2 linked regions of the Homo sapiens genome follow. The protein of the gene in region 2 interacts with the protein of the main gene of each other region in a pairwise test. Each region holds a gene or a part of one and is shown on either strand. Other genes may lie near its edges.

What was found. Proteins that work in one complex are often made in the same cells at the same time.
Region 1: the proteins of FOXN1 (region 2) and SPATC1L interact in binary tests that used the Homo sapiens proteins (3 or more experiments, as listed by UniProt).

The regions. Positions count from the first base shown.
Region 1 is NC_000021.9:46,163,786-46,167,535, reverse strand, and holds part of SPATC1L (speriolin-like protein), read left to right. Parts: intron 1-3,750.
Region 2 is NC_000017.11:28,530,239-28,533,988, reverse strand, and holds part of FOXN1 (forkhead box protein N1), read right to left. Parts: intron 3,241-3,750; coding exon 3,144-3,240; intron 1-3,143. UniProt on the Homo sapiens protein: Transcriptional regulator which regulates the development, differentiation, and function of thymic epithelial cells (TECs) both in the prenatal and postnatal thymus.

The sequences.
Region 1 (3,750 bases), on a different chromosome or scaffold from region 2:
GCCTGTCAATTTTATTTATCTTTTCAAATAACCGATTTTTTGTTACATTGATCTGTTGTATTGTTTTCTTCATTTAAATTTCATTTATTTCTTCTCTGATCTTAATTATTTTTCTTCTAATTTTGGATTTGGTTTGCTCTTGCATTTCTAGCTCTGTAAGATGAATCATTAGCTTATTTGAAGTTTTTCTACTTTTTTGATATAGGCACTCATAACTATAAACTCTTAGCACTTACAGCTATAGCTCTTAGTATGGCTTTTGCTGAATCTAGTACATAGTAGGTTTTGGTGTGTTGTGTTTCCATTATCATTTGTTTCAAGACATTTTTAAAATTTCCTTCTTAATTTCTTCACTGATGCACTGGCCATCCAGGAGCGTATTGTTTAATTTCTATGTGTTGGTATAATTTCCAAAATTCCTTTTGTTATTGATTTCATTTTATTCCATTATGGTCGGAGAAGATACTTGATATAATTTCAATTTTTTTGATTTTTAAAGACTTGTTTTGCAGCCTAGCATATGGTCTATCCTTGAGAATGATCCATGTGCTAATGAGAAGCAGGTGTATTCTGCACCTGTTGGATGAAATGTTCTGTAAATATCTATCATGTTCATTTGGTCTATAGTATAGATTAAGTCTGATATTTCTTTGATTTTCTGTCTTAAAGATCTGTCCAAGGGTGAAAATGCGTATTGAAGTCTCCAGTTACTATTGTACTGGGGTCTGTCTCTCGATTTAGCTCTAGTAATATTTGCTTTACATATCTGGGTGCTCCAGTGTTGGGTGCATATATATTTATAACTGTTATATCCTCTTGCTGAATTGACCCCTTTATCATTATATAATGACCTTCTTTGTCTCTTGTTATAGTTTTTGTCTTGAAATCCACTTTGATATAACTATGGCTGCTACTGCTCTTTTTTGGTTCTCATTTGCATGGAATATCCTTTTCTATCCCTTTATTTTCAGTCTGTGTGAGTCTTTATAGGCGACGTGTGTTTCTTGTAGGCAGCAGATGGTTGGGTCTTGTTTTTTTTTTATCCATTCAGCCACTCCGTCTTTTGATTGGAGAGTTTAGTCTATTTACATTCAAAGTTTCTTGGTTGTTTTTGACCAAACTCACATACTATCATTCATCGATTTGACTGTGCTGTAATTTTTTTTTTTGGAGACAGGGTCTCACTTTGATGCCCAGGCTGGAGTGCAGTGGTGCAATCTTGGCTCACTGCAACCTCCGCCTCCTGGGTTCAAGTGATTCTCATGCCTCAGCCACCCGAGTAGCTGGGATTATAGGTGCGTGCCACCACGCCCAGCTAATCTTTGTATTTTTAGTAGAGATGGGGTTTTGCCACATTGACCAGGCTGGTCTCAAACTCCTGACCTCAAGTGATCCGCCCACCTCAGCCTCCCAAAGTACTGGGATTACAGGCATGAGCTACTGCACCTGCCTATTTACATTCAAAGTTATTATTGATAAAGATTTACTCCTGCCATTTTGTTATTTGTTTTCTCATTGTTTTGTGGTCTTCCCTCCTCTTTATCTAGAAGAGTTTGTGTTGAATTGGTGTTATTTATTCCTTAAGTGGTAGAATTCACCGCTGAAACTACCCGAGCCTTGAATGGTCTCTGTGGGAACATTTTCCCCCTACAAATTCCATTTTATTGATAATGTCAACTGAAATTAAGGCTGTTGAGACAAATAATTCGATAAAGGTTTATTGGAAGCCAAATGTGAGGATCAACCCAGAGGAACACACCAACAAAGTTGAGAGTGTTCTGGAATCTAAGTCAGAAGGTTTCTATAGGAGAGGCTAGGAGGAGGGAAAGGACTCCTCATACTCATGTCTAAGTCAGAAGGCTTCTATAGGAGAGGCTAGGAGGAGGGAAAGGACTCCTCATACTCATGTTGTCCTTTTCTAGTCAGAAGGTTTCTATAGGAGAGGCTAAGAGGAGGGAAAGGACTCATACTCATATCTAAGTCAGAAGGCTTCTACAGGAGAGGCTAGGAGGAGAGAAAGGACTCCTCATACTCATGTTGTCCTTTTCTTTGGAGGGTACAACACAGAGGTTACAAGCATTGGCTACAGATGACAACATACAGGTCAACACATCTCTGTGCAAGACAGTCAGTAAACCTTTATGATTCAGGAATAAATCAGCATCTTTTCAGTCCATTAATCAGCACATCAGCAATCTGAGGAAATCATGATAAGATTCTTTACTCAGGGACCATTAATCATAAGACCTTCCCAAGCAGGCCAGTTTGGAAGTCTGTTTACTTTTAAACTGTCAAATGTGACCTGTAAGGTTATCAGATATAAGGCTATTCAGAGTATCTATTTCTTCTTGAGTGAACTTTGGTAGTTTGTGTCTTTTAAGGAATTGGTCAATTTCATCTAGGTTGTCAAATTTATTGGCATAAAGTCATTCCTAATACTTCCTTATTATCCTTTTTATGTCTGTAGAATCTGTGGTAGTGGCATCTCTAATTTCTGCTAGTGGTAATTTTTGTCTTCTTTCTTTTTTCCCCTAAGTCTGGCTAGAGGTTTATCAATGTATGGCCTTTTTCCTTTGAAGAACAGGTTTTTGGCTGGATCTTACAGAGCCCAGGTTGGACTAGAAATCATTTCTAGAACCTATACTAGAATCATTTCTCTTCTATAGGATGTTTCTTCTACCTCATTTTTGCCTTGGTGGGGGGATGGGAGAAAGAGCTTGATTCTTTTTTTTTTTTTTTTTCTTGAGATGGAGTCTCGCTCTGTCGCCCAGGCTGGAGTGCAGTGGTGCGATCTCGGCTCACTGCAACATCCACCTCCCGGGTTCAAGCCATTCTCCTGCCTCAGCCTCCTCAGTAGCTGGGATTACAGGCACCCGCCACCATGCCTGGCTAATTTTTGTATTTTTAGTAGAGATGGGGTTTCACCATGTTTGCCAAGCTGGTCTCGAACTCCTGACCTTGTGATCCACCCACCTCGGCTTCCCAAAGTGCTGGGATTACAGGCATGAGCCACCGCACCTGGCCAAGAGCTTGATTCTTGATGAGAGAAATACATTGATACAGAAGGAGGAGATTACACCTGCTCTTCCACACCCCTCATTGGCCCTAACACACTTCTGTGCAGTGTGTTGACATACCTCTTCTGCAGTCTTGAAAAGTGATTGGGAAAGAAATACACTGAAAACTACAAACATCACTGAAAGGAATGAAAGAAGACATAAATGACCAGGCACAGTGGCTCACACCTGTAATCCCAACATTTTGGAAGGCTGAGATGGGCAGATCTCTTGAGCCCAGGAGTTCAAGACCAGCCTCAGCAACAGGGCGAAACCCCATCTCTACCAACCCCCCACCACCCAAGTTAGCTGGTCGTGGTGGTGCATGCCTGTAGTTCCAGCTATTCAGGAGGCTGAGGTGGGAGGATCACTCAAGCCCAGAAGGTAGAGGTTGCAGTGAGCTGAGATCGTGCCACTGCACTCCAGCTTGGGTGACAGAGCGAGACCCTTTCTTCAAAAAAACAAACAAACAAACAATAAATAAATAAACAGAAAAACACCTTGTGTTCACAGATTAGAAGACTTTATATTGTTCAAAAATCAATAATTTTGATATGGATTACATTGGATCTGCAGATTCATGCAATCCCAATCAGAATCCTAGTGGCTTCTTTACAGAAATTGACAAGCAGAAACTGAAATTCATATAGAAGTGTAAGGAACCAGAATAAGTAAAACGATCTTGAAAAAGGAG
Region 2 (3,750 bases):
CTGAGCCACTCCCCACTGGGTCTCCATGCCTGTGCTTGGACCCCTCTGTGGAAGGGGGACTCATTACTCTGAGGTCTTGTGGCTGGCTTTAGACAGGGGAATTAGGGGAAGAATGCTCCTCTCCTGGGTCTGCCTTATCCCCTCTGGGACTAACTTGGGAGAAAAGAAAGATGGGCGAGGTTGGTGAGTGTTTGGGTGTGTGCGGTGTGTGCATTGCACATATGTTTGTGTGTCTAAGTGGGTTTGGTATATGAAGGGACAGTGCGTATGAGCATGTGCATACGTCCCTAAGTGTGTCATCCTGGCATAAGCAACGTCTCCTGGATACTCCTTCATGGGTCCATGAATTCCTCGACTGTGAGGATGGCTGTGTGTGAGAAAGTCTCTCTGGGTGTGACTGTGGGTAGCCATGATCGTATGATGTGTGGGTGTGAGTGTTTGCATGAGTGTGCCCAGGGGGCGTGCCCTGGTGGGGAGGCCAGCCCTCAGGCAGTGGGGGGGGGTGCTCGTGCCAATAGAATAAACACCCATTAGGAGGCCTGGTCATGCCACCAGTGTGGTAATTGTGCCCAGGGAGGGTTGTAAAAACCATTAGGCTGACTCAGTTGGGTGAGAGGCGGTGGCGGGAGTGCCAGTGGGCCCCCTGCCCGCCCACCTCCAGCTCTGTTCCAGGCTCTGTGACAGCCCTGAGTTCAGCAGGGGCTGACTGTGGGTAGGGCACTCGCTCTGGCCGGTGGGGCTCCTTCGCCCTCATTCCCTGGCCCCTCCCCCTTTCAGCCCAAAGTTTCTGCTTAATGAGGGGCGGCCACTCCTTCCTCCTCAGCTCACTTGCCCCAGGGAGCAGCCAAGCTGAATCATGCCCAGCAGAACTGGGTCTTGATGCCAGCGTCACTCCAAGTGGCTGGCAGGACCTGGTGCAGCCTTTCTTGGGGGCAGCTGGCCTGGGGCAGGTTGCTGGTTGAGATGACCCCTAAGGCTCCCAGGGTCACCAGGGAGGATTCTTGAGCCACCAGACCAGCCAACTAGGGATTCACCTTCGACTCCCACCACAGTCTCCACTAGGAGTTAAGGCCACGTTGCCCCATGGGCGGAGTTAATGGGCGCTGGGGCCTTTTATGGCCCCATGAATCTGTGACTTTGGGATGCCAGGGCAGCCCCCACCCCAGCCACTTCCTGTTTGGAAGAGGGATGGTCAGCACTAACAATTATGTCCAGTGGCTGGACACTTCCCCAGCCCCACATCCCTGACTCATGGGGCTATGGGATGCCCACAGCAGCTGCCTTGGGCATGAGTGCTGGCCACTCCAGGGTCCAGTCTATCCTTGCCCAGAAAAATGATCTTCAAAAGGGAAGTGAGAGATGGAAAGAGGTGGGGGATCTTTGAACTAAGGAATTTCCTTAGGTGGGTCACAGGGGAACTGTCAGAGTCAGAAGGAATCTATGTGCCAACGGATCTGACCCACTTTACAGACTGGGAAACTGAGGTTCAGAGAAGAAAGGGCCTAGCCCTGGATCACACAAGGAGGCAGTGACAGAGCTTAGCCTCCAACTCTGTCCCCCAGCTAAGGGCCCTGCCCAGGTCACCCCATAGGGCCTGCCTCACAATCTGGGGCCCATCCCATCCTCACAGATGCTTTCTCTCTGAGATCAAATGTAAACTCAGGAGTGAGGGAGTGATGCAAGTGGCTAAAAGCAACAACTAGAACCAAAGGGAACAAAAAGCTGTTAGACCTCTTCACTCCTCAGCCCCATAAAACAGGGATTACATGGCTCCCAGGAAAAATAATTAAGCCAGGAAGATGAGATGCGGGGAGGGGTGGGGGCCAGGCCGGGAGCTGGTGGGGAAGGAAGGCTGAGAGGACTGGGCTTTTCCCTCTCTCTGCCCTGGCCCCTTGAAACCCTAGAAGACCCTCCAAAAGCTTTAGGGGTTAGGGAGAGTTCAGCCCCTGACCTGCTGGGGTATGGAGGGCAGCCCTGAATTCAGGCTTTGATGCTTCTTGAATTCCAGGGACGACTCACCTCCCTCCCTCTTTCCCTTCCAGAACCTCTGGTGGATCAACACACTTTTCCACTCCTGGACAGACCACTCCGGCCAACTTGCCCACTCCTCATCTGATGGCAGCCCAGCAGGATAAACTTATTTGAACATCAAGCGTCAAATTATCCCCAGGCAGGACCATAGATGGTGGGGGCAGGAATCACCCCCTGGCAGGTGGAGCTGAGTTCTGGATTACCCGGGTCTCAGCAACTGCCCACTGCCTGGGTGACAGATGAGATTTGTGTCTACTAGGGCTTGGAGAAGGCACTCCTCACACACAATCTCTGGTCTCCCTGATACCCATCCCAGGAGAAGGGGGTCTGTGCTGGAGGGTCTAGGTGGCACGCAGAGAGGGGTGTGCAAAGCCAAATAGCTTGATCCAGTAACTGATCCCATCTACTGTGCGACCTTAGGGGAATGGACCACCCTGTCTGATGTGTTTGTCCACCTTGGGAGAAGAGCCCCTGTCCTGCCTCTAGAGAGGGAGCTGGGTAAGGCTCCCAGAAGCGCCTTCTGTGAATGATAGAAATGAGATTCTGCCCAAGGGGTTGGGGGAGAGTCAGGTGAGCCAGCCTGGGACACTCAAAGACTGGGAAGCCCACACCCCGCTTTCTGGCAGAACTGCAGCTGAGCCTGCCACCCACAGAGATAGATCCTAATCTCACCTTGGAAGGCAATGGCTTCTTCAGCCCCGACCTCCCAGTCACCGTGGCTGACTAGCTTCTCCAGCCCCACAGCATCCCAGCGGTCGGGGTAGCAATAGTGTCTTATTTCTTCTCCAACTTTCTCTTCCCACTTGGGGTAGGTGGATGCTCCCTGAGGCCCATCGGTGCTACCTTGCCCACCTTCCCCAGCAGAAGGTCTGACTCCAGTCTGCTGTGCAACCTTGGATGAGCCACTTGGGCTCTCTGTTCCCCACTTGGAGCACCTTTTGTAGGAACTCTGTCCTTCTGAGGTGGAGACAACGGAAAGCATGGTGGGGGTAAGCCCTCTCCTGGCTTTCGTTCTAATTCTTCTCCCACCTCCAGACAGAAGCCTCTGCTCAGAGAGGCCTGGCCTGTCCAGGACTTGGGGGTGATGGGATGGGGAGGAATCTTGGGCTCACCTTGAAGTAAGGAAAGTGCTCCGTCATAAAATTGTAGATCTCGCTGACGGGAAGGCTCCCAGTTTTACTGTTCTTAAGGGCCATGAAGATGAGGATGCTGAAGAAAGAGAAAGCCCCTGAGAGTCCGAACCTCTGACTGGGTCCTGAGCCCACCCCAAGCCCCCCACCCCTGGTGAGAGGCTCTATGGGATTGGAGGTGAAAGAGAAGGGAATGAGAAGGTGTCCATTGAAGTGAGCACGGAAGTCAGGAATTACAGACGTGCGAGGGTCTTGTGGAATCTGAGAAACCTGGGTGGCCATCCTGGCCTAGTTACTCTCTGGCTGTGTGACCTTGGGTGAATGCCTTACCCTCTCTGAACCTCAGTTTCCTCAACTTTGAAGTGAAGAAAGTAATAGCTACCTCAGAGTTGTGAGGATTAAGGATGGTGCCTGTCACATAGAAGGCACTCATTAAACGGAAGCTGTCATTACTAGTTAGTCCTCAGCCAATTGCATGAATGTTGGAGAGTAGGGAGGGAACTAAGGTTTCTTGAGCCTATGCAATGTACCAAGCACAGTACCTACATTCTCTTACTTAATCCTTCCAACAGCCTGAACTGCTACCCCA